Linked DNA regions of Homo sapiens: region 2 is linked to region 1. A link means that fine-mapping ties the variant in region 1 to the expression of a gene that starts in the linked region. Tissue or cell type: monocytes after LPS. Region 1 holds a variant in brackets; the other region holds the start of a gene. All regions are shown on one strand. Distances are between the middles of the regions. Region 1 has its middle 31 kb from the start of C10orf67. Region 2 holds the start of OTUD1 (OTU deubiquitinase 1).

What was found. PIP is the estimated chance that this variant, and not a neighbour inherited with it, causes the effect.
Region 2: it holds the start of OTUD1, and the variant in region 1 is the best candidate, but not a certain one, in a credible set for the expression of OTUD1 in monocytes after LPS (Quach 2016, PIP 0.64).

What each region holds. Positions count from the first base shown.
Region 1 is chr10:23,373,162-23,377,551 of GRCh38, forward strand. No RefSeq gene overlaps it. Among named protein-coding and RNA genes, the nearest start is that of C10orf67, 31 kb to the left of the region's middle. The variant C/G (reference allele first, on the strand shown) is at 2,723.
Region 2 is chr10:23,437,030-23,441,419 of GRCh38, forward strand. It overlaps OTUD1 (OTU deubiquitinase 1), which reads left to right and starts at 2,046. Exons shown (of 1, transcript NM_001145373.3): 1 at 2,046-4,390. The coding sequence starts at 2,429. The coding sequence ends at 3,874. RefSeq lists silencers at 1,775-2,364, 2,415-2,754, 2,895-3,264.

The sequences.
Region 1 (4,390 bases):
CTCCCAAGCTGGGAGTCCCAGCTGTAGCTGGGACTGCAGGTGCATGCCACCATACCCAGCTAATTTTTGTATTTTTAGTAGAGATGGGATTTCACCATATTGGCCAGGCTGGTCTCGAATTCCTGACCTCAAGTGATTCATCCACCTTGGCCTCACAAAGTGTAGGGATTACAGGCATGAGCCACCATGCCCAGCCACTCCTCTTCTCCTGCTATCTCATAGTTTGGGCATGTCTTTATGCCTACTCTTGAAGCCATCCTCACAGGTTAACAAGAATTCTGGACAGAAATATAACTATAATTAAGCATTAATCAGGCTGCACTTTGACCCACTTTCTTCCTGGTCACATAACACTAGATACTGACCATTTGCATCTCCATGTTCCCATAGATAGAATTTCTGATGTTAGATAGGATCTCTTATGTTAGAATCATAAGGCTTTTGTTTAAGAATTGTTTAAGCATAGCCAGGCATGGTGATGCATGCCTAGTAGTCTCAGCCACTCAGGAGGCTGAGGTGGGAGGATCACTTAATCCTGGGAGGTCAAGGCTGCAGTGAGCAGAGTGCACCACTGCACTTCAGCCTGGGAGACAGACAGAAAGAAAGAAAGAAAGAAAGAGAGAAAGGAGAGAGAGGGAAAGAGAAAGAAGAAGGAAGGAAGGAAGAGAGAGAGAGAGAAAGAAAGAAGAAAGAAAAAAGAAAGAAAGAAAGAAAGAAAGAAAGAAAGAAAGAAAGAAAGAAAGAAAGAAAAAGAAATTGCTTAAGCAGATCCTGAATTCTGACAGAATCACTTACACCAACCAGTTTAAAGACCCCCAACAGAGGAACCAAATAAGCATGAGAATACAGCTTCTTCATCTCCCTGTCCCGCAACTTTACCCTGTACTCTAGAACCAATCAACAATCTCCACACTTCAGCCCACTCCAAACCCCTTGAAAACCCTATCCCCAAACTCCTTGGGGAGATTGGTTTGAGGTTTCCTCTTGTCTCCTCATTTGGCAGCCCTACAATGAAACCTCTTTCTCTGATGCAACCTGGTGTCTCAGCACATTGCTTTGCACATTGGGCAACTGACCCATTATGTTACAGTTTTACCCTATTATAATGTGTTACAATTATATCTCCTTCTGCTGCTAAATCACACACTCTTTGAAAGCAAGGACTTCTGGGTATCCCTAACAGTTAGTACAGTGCTTAGCCATGCAGGGTAATTGTGATCACCCAACAGATTCTTCCTGCCTGCTGCACAGACAAAATCAATCCATTGAGCCCACAGCACTGCAGTAGAGAAAGAGTTTAATTGATGTGAGGCCAACCCATGCAGGAGAACTGGAGCTATCACCCAAATGAGTCTCCCCAAATGCTTGGGGGTTAGGGTTTTTATGGACAATTTGGTGGGAAGGGGCTGGGGAATGGGTGATACTGATTGGTTGGGCTGAGTCCACTTCTGGGTCAGGTCACAGGATCCATTGAGTCATGAGTCACAACCCCAGGTGGAGTCAGTGTGAAAGATAGCTCAAAAAAACCAATTCTAGCTTCTATGACAGTGACATTATCTACAGGAGCAATTGGGAAAGTCATCAATCTTGTGACCTCTAGCCACATGAACCCTGAGCAGTAAGGGATTGTAGAAACTATACCTATCCAGAGGCCAGTTTTGGTAGTTTGTGCCTGTAATCCCAGCACTTTGGGAGGCCAAGGCAGGCAGATCACCTGAGGTCAGGAGTTCGAGACCAGCCTGGCCAACATGGTGAAACCCTGTCTCTACTAAAAATACAAAAATTAGCTGGGCATGGTGGTATGTGCCTGTAGTTCCAGCTACTTGGGAGGCTGAGGCAGGATAATCACTTGAACCCTGGAGGCAGAGGGTGCAGTGAGCTGAGATCGCACCATTTACACTCCAGTCTGGGTGACAGAATGAGACTCCATCTCAAAATAAATAAATAAGTAAATAAATAAAAGAAACCATGCCTATCTTATTGGAATCCAGGCCCCTCTCTATAAGCCTAACATTGTAGCCTTTCATTAGTTTTACAAAGATGGCTTAGTTTTGGAAAGGGCTATCATCTTTGCTTTAACATTAAACCATAAACTAGATTCCTCCCAAAGTTAGTTTGGCCTACCCAGGAATGGCCAAGGACAGCTGGGAAGCCAGAAGCAAGATGGAATCAACTATGTCAGATTTCTTACTGTCTGTGACATTATGATATATATTGGATTTCACCCATGGTTCCTGGCTCATACATAACTCCTGTAGCCTCTGTTACAGCCTTTTGTTAGAATGTTGGGTGTGCTAGGCCTCAGAGGCAGGTCTCTGACCTTCTCCTGCCCTCCTTTCACTCTAATGTGTCATGTCCACCCCCGCAACCATCACCAACCCCCTCACCTGCCTTTCCAATTGTTTAAGACCCTCCCAGGAGAACATCCCACGCTATGCCCTGAGGGAAGGAATGCTGATGTCATGAAGCTTCCATAAAAATCCAAGAGGACAGGGTTCATTGAACTTCCAGATAGCTGAACAGTAGAGGTTTCTGGAGACCAGCACCCAGGGAGGGCATGGAAGCTCTGCGCCTGTTCCCCCTTACCTTTCCCTACACACGTCTTCATCTGTGTCCTTTGCAATATCCTTTATAATAAACCAGTAAACGTAGGTAAGTGTTTCTCTGAGTTCTGTGAGCTGCTCCCTCCAATTAATTAAACCCAAAGAGGGGGTTGTGGGAA[C/G]CCCAACTTGAAGCTGGTTTGTCAGAAGTTCCAGAGGCCTGGACTTGTGACTTGTGTGTGTGGAAGGGCAGTCTTGGGAACTGAGCCCACCTGTGGGATCTGATGCTATCTCCAGGTAGATAATGTCAGAACTGAACTAGAGGAAACCCAGCTGGTGTCCACTGCTTGGTGTGTGGGGAATGCCCCTCCGACATTTGGTCACAGAAGTCTTCCCCTGTGTTGGTGATTATTCTGGTGTGAAAGTAGAGGAAAAACAGTTTGGGGAGAGTGTTTCCCTACACATTGTCATAATTTTGCAAAAGCAGTTTTATAATCACTAAATGCTTATTGAGTAAATGACTGATGTGAAACTTGTAAATATGACTTATTCTAGCTGATGGTCAAAATCCGCAGTGTTAGCAGTTAGTATGACGTCATACCTTCTGATACATCTTCTTTAATGCCACAGCTCCAATAGGGATAATATTGAAACACTCACAGCTTTGTGGGACTTTGCTTTTTCAGTTCCTCTCAGACCCAAGGGATGGAGCTGGGTTTCCCAGAAGCAAAACAACTGAAGAGGAACTTGTCTATTTGACCTTTTAGTTTGAGGCCTGCTCATATGACAAGCTCATGGCATAAAATAGGAATTTCCAACTATATAAGAAATACCAATGCTTTATCCAACTTGTTACATGAACACATACCCTTCCCCCACAGACACATACCCACATACACCACACACGCACACACACAGTGTCACATGTGCAGCATACACAGAAATGACTCCTCAATTTCTGAAAGGGGCAAGAGGCATTTGGCCTTCAGAAGGGAAGATAAAGGGGAAATCAAGTCTTATTAATTTAAAAGTTTTTGAGACGGTAAATAAGTATAGACAGGGGTAGAGAGACTGTATCTATTGTTCAAATCCCCAGGGCCTCTGGTAAGAAGATTTTAATAAGATCTATAAAGATCCCCTCAGCTCTAATGACTTACTATTGTAGGATTTCACCACAGAATGGTTTGTTTTGGAAAGCATTTAAAGAGCAGCCATGGAAAATAATCTAAAGCTTCAATTCTTGAGCTAAACAACTTTGATAGTGTTATAATTGATTTGGAAGACTAGGTATACCAGGAGCTCTGAAGTTTGTGGATACGGTAAGCTCACTAAGTAGAGAATTAACTAATCGATGAAGGTGAAAAAATTCGAGGACACATTTGTGGGCAGAAAAGTGGCACAGGAGCTTTAATTAAGGACAAATGTTAAATAATGCAATTAAAGAAAAATGATACAACCTAAGTCTGTAAACTGACGAACTCTGAGCTATCAAATATAACCTAAGAGAAGGATTAAACATTACCTGGGGACCTATATATAGAGATGAAAAATATATTCTATAGAAATATACACCAAACTGACTGTTTGCATCATATGGCTTATAACACTGAAAAACTAGAAACCCAAATGTTCTCTTTTTTCTTTTTCTTTTTTTGAGGCAGAGTTTTGCTCTTGTTGCCCAGGCTAGAGTGCAATGGCATGATCTTGGCTTACTGCAGCAGCCTCCACTTTCTGGGTTCAAGCGATTATCCTGCCTCAGCCTACCAAGTAGCTGGGATTACAGACGTGTGCCACCATGCCCGGATTTTTTTTTTTTTTTTTTTTTTTTTTTTTTTTTTTTTTTTTTTTTT
Region 2 (4,390 bases), 64 kb after region 1:
AGTCCTGCCAGGCACGTGGTGGGTATGGTAAATATTATTTGGTGACGGCCTTGTTAACAGTCTTGTCTTCTGTTTCAGAACACCAGCTAATGAAAGAGTTAAGCGTGAAGTGCTTCATGCACAGAGCAACAGATGCTCAACAAATCAGTGATGAAATCCAAGGATGGTAATTTCCTTTTTCTAATTAGCCATGAGAGCTTCAAGCTCCCAATGGGGTAGTTACCAGAATTTGAAAAGTTAGACAGTCATTTACCTTCTTCTGAGTTAATTTACATAAGCGGCTGGAGTGACCTGAGCTGGGACCCTGCCAGTCATACTGCCCAAAGATAATTAAAAGCCCTGGCTAGGGTCAAGGGACCTGGATAGTAATCTTGGCTTCACCACTGTCTGACAAACCTTGGAAACTCGCTTTCCATCTACTCATTCACTTAGTAAATATTAATTAGGTCCAATTATGTGCCAAGCACGGTGTTAGGGGATGGAAATATAAGAGCAAGACCCAAGTCTCTCAATTCCTGGAATTCACATTCCACCGGAAAGGTGGGGACCGGAGTACAGCCTACATCACCTACAGGTTCAGTCTCCCTATCTCTAAAATGTTAGGACAACCTCTGGGTTCAATTCGAATGTTTAGGCCCTGTTAATTTAGCATTTGATCACAGCTCAGAATATAGCAAAAGTCTCCCACTACCTCTGGCTTTCCCTTACAAAGGCGGGTATTACAAAAAGACTCGGTAGAAGTATTTTCTATAGTCTATCTTGCCCCGGAATGCAGGTCACGACTTTCTCCACCGCTTTTGACCTCTGGCTAGCATTCACACCTATTCTCAAAGGGCCCTAAGTGATACTGCATTTGGTATTCTGAGAAAGCTTGTTTATAAAAGCCTAAAAGGCTTCCTTGCTTTCCCCCAAGCCAGATATTTGCCAAATGGCATAGGTCAGAGGTGCAAAGTTGGTTTTGTCTTAGCAAGGCAAGAGAATCCACTAGCGGACTCACCCTTACCGGTGAGTCCAAGGAAATGCATAGAAAAGACACAGTGGTAAAACTAGCTGGGCACCTGTAATCCCTGCCCAAGGCAAGGCTGAGGAAGGGGGATCACTTGGGCCCTGGAGGTCGAGGTCGCAGTGGGACATGATGGCGCCACTGCACTCAGCCTGGAAGGCAGAGCAAGACCTTGCCTCAAAAAGAAAAAGAAAAAAAAAAAAAGGAAAAGACGCGGCGGTTCCACGAGTGGTGGCTAGGACCCATAATCCCAACACTTTAGGAGGTCGAGGCGGGAAACAGCTTGAGGCCAGTAGTTCGACACCAGACTGGGCAACTGTGGTGAGACCCTCGCCTTAAAAAAAAAGAAAGAAAGAAAGAAAGAAAATTAGCCGGGTGCGGTGGTGCACACCTGTGGTTTCCAGTTACTCTGGAGGTTGAGGCGGGAGGATCGCTTGAGCCCGGGAAGTCAAGGCTGCAGTGAGCTATGGACTGCGCCACTACACTCTAGCTTCGGAGACAGGTAAGACCCCCATCTCTAAAAAGATAAAAGAAAAGAGGCAGTAGTGAATGCAAGCAGGGATGGTAGCCCATGACCAGCAGAGGCCAAACAGACTTTAAGGCAGCATTCCGTTCTCCACACCCATGCCGGAAGCTTTCCTGCCACGCAAGCTTTCCGAGCATGCTAACTCGCCCCAAGCAGCTCCCATCCCGCAGCATCCACTGCAGCCGCTGAGGAGAGTGGCGCAGCGCAGAAACCAGTGCCCAGTGCCCAGGTGGGGGAAGCGGTCCGTGGGAGTCACGTGGGCGGGAGGCCCAGCCAGGATCCCAGGACTGCTCAGGCCTCCGCGCCCCCGGCCTCGCCCCGCCCGCGCGCGCTCGCGCGCCGAGGGCCACGCCCGTGACGTCGGCGGAGCGCGGTAGGGGGCGGGGCGCGGGCCGGAGTGGGCGGGGCGAGCAGGCGCGACTGAATCGGGCGCCGCAAAGAGCCGCGCATTCCAGTGAGTCCACGTGACGCGGCCGCGAGGCCTGAGGTAAACAACCGCGGCCCCGCCTCCCGGGCCTCCGCGCGCACCGCGCTCCTCCTCGCCGGCGGGACGCGCTCCAACGGGGCGGGCGGCTTCCTCCGTGAGTCCCCAGCGGCCGCCGCGGGCCGAAGCAGCTGCAGCGGGCGCGGCGCCCCGGGTCTGCGGGCCGAGCGCACCGGCAGGGGTCGAGCTCGCGTCCCGTCCCCGCCCCCCTGCGCTGTGGCGCAGCAGGAATTTGGCCGGGACCCGGGCGCTATTCGCGGCTGCTGACTCGCGGCGGCCGGCTGCCTTTCGCTCATCTCTATTCTGGGGCCGTTGGGTCACCGCGCTCCGCCGGCCCCCTCCCCCGGGCCCGGAGGGTGTGTCCCCCGCTCCGGGGCTCGCCGCGCCTATAAGGGGCCGAGCGGCGGGCAGGGACATGCAGCTCTACAGCAGCGTCTGCACCCACTACCCCGCCGGGGCCCCGGGTCCCACGGCCGCCGCCCCCGCGCCACCCGCCGCCGCTACCCCCTTCAAGGTCTCGCTGCAGCCCCCGGGAGCCGCCGGCGCCGCGCCCGAGCCCGAGACCGGTGAGTGCCAGCCCGCCGCGGCCGCCGAGCACCGGGAAGCCGCCGCTGTCCCCGCCGCCAAGATGCCCGCCTTCTCCTCCTGCTTCGAGGTGGTGTCCGGGGCCGCCGCGCCCGCCTCCGCCGCCGCCGGCCCGCCCGGCGCGTCCTGCAAGCCGCCGCTGCCGCCGCACTACACGTCCACCGCACAGATCACCGTGCGGGCCCTGGGCGCCGACAGGCTCCTGCTGCACGGGCCCGATCCCGTTCCCGGCGCCGCGGGCTCCGCCGCTGCCCCGCGCGGCCGCTGCCTCCTGCTCGCCCCGGCGCCCGCAGCCCCGGTCCCGCCGCGGCGGGGCTCCTCGGCCTGGCTCCTGGAGGAGCTGCTGCGGCCCGACTGCCCCGAGCCCGCGGGCTTGGACGCGACACGGGAGGGGCCCGATCGGAACTTCCGACTGAGCGAGCACCGCCAGGCCCTGGCCGCCGCCAAGCACCGAGGCCCCGCGGCGACCCCGGGGAGCCCCGATCCCGGCCCCGGTCCGTGGGGCGAAGAGCACTTGGCGGAGAGGGGCCCCAGGGGCTGGGAGAGGGGCGGCGATCGCTGCGACGCGCCCGGTGGGGACGCGGCGCGGAGGCCCGACCCAGAGGCCGAGGCACCCCCCGCCGGGAGCATCGAGGCCGCCCCGAGTAGTGCGGCGGAGCCGGTGATCGTCTCCAGGTCGGATCCCAGAGACGAGAAGCTGGCCCTATACCTGGCCGAGGTGGAGAAGCAGGACAAGTATCTGCGGCAGAGGAATAAGTACCGATTCCACATCATTCCAGACGGCAACTGCCTCTACCGAGCTGTCAGCAAGACGGTGTATGGGGACCAGAGCCTGCACCGGGAGTTGAGGGAGCAGACGGTGCACTACATCGCCGACCATCTCGACCACTTCAGCCCCCTGATTGAGGGCGACGTGGGGGAGTTTATCATCGCTGCTGCCCAAGACGGGGCATGGGCCGGGTACCCGGAGTTGCTGGCCATGGGGCAGATGCTGAATGTGAATATCCATTTAACTACTGGAGGGAGGCTGGAGAGTCCCACGGTGTCTACCATGATTCATTATTTGGGCCCAGAGGATTCCCTGAGGCCTAGTATTTGGCTCAGTTGGCTCAGTAACGGACACTATGATGCTGTATTTGATCACTCCTATCCTAACCCAGAGTACGACAACTGGTGCAAACAAACTCAAGTGCAAAGGAAACGCGACGAAGAACTTGCCAAATCTATGGCCATATCCTTGTCTAAAATGTATATTGAACAAAATGCATGCTCTTGAAATGTCTCAAAACCTTACACCCTGGGAATAATTGCATATATAACTTGTGTTTGGAGAATCACATGAACTTTAATCAGGGTAATAGCACTTTCAAACTTGCTAGTAGATTTTACTGTAGGTGTAATGCCTTAATCATCTTTTTGAATGTTTTCTCAGAGCTGGAGGTTGCTGGGCACCTAAATGATGTTTCATGATAGCTTTGGGTGATTTTACTGCTATTTATAATTTGCTGTATAAAGTGAGCATTACTTAATTTGCAAGCTGATTTCTCACAGTGTAAATTTGTTCATTCCTGGTAGTCTATTTTCTATAAAAATGTATTTTTGCACAACATTTTTAAAAACTGGTGTACCTTCATCTATGACGTGTTCCATTTTGACAAACAGCTTTCAGGCGTAAATCCAGAGAAGTGCTTTATATGAAATGTATTATTTTGAACAGAGTTTGTGATTTGGTAGTTATTTTATGTTGTTGAAATTTGAATTTCACAATTCTTAGATAATTATTTCAAATGGA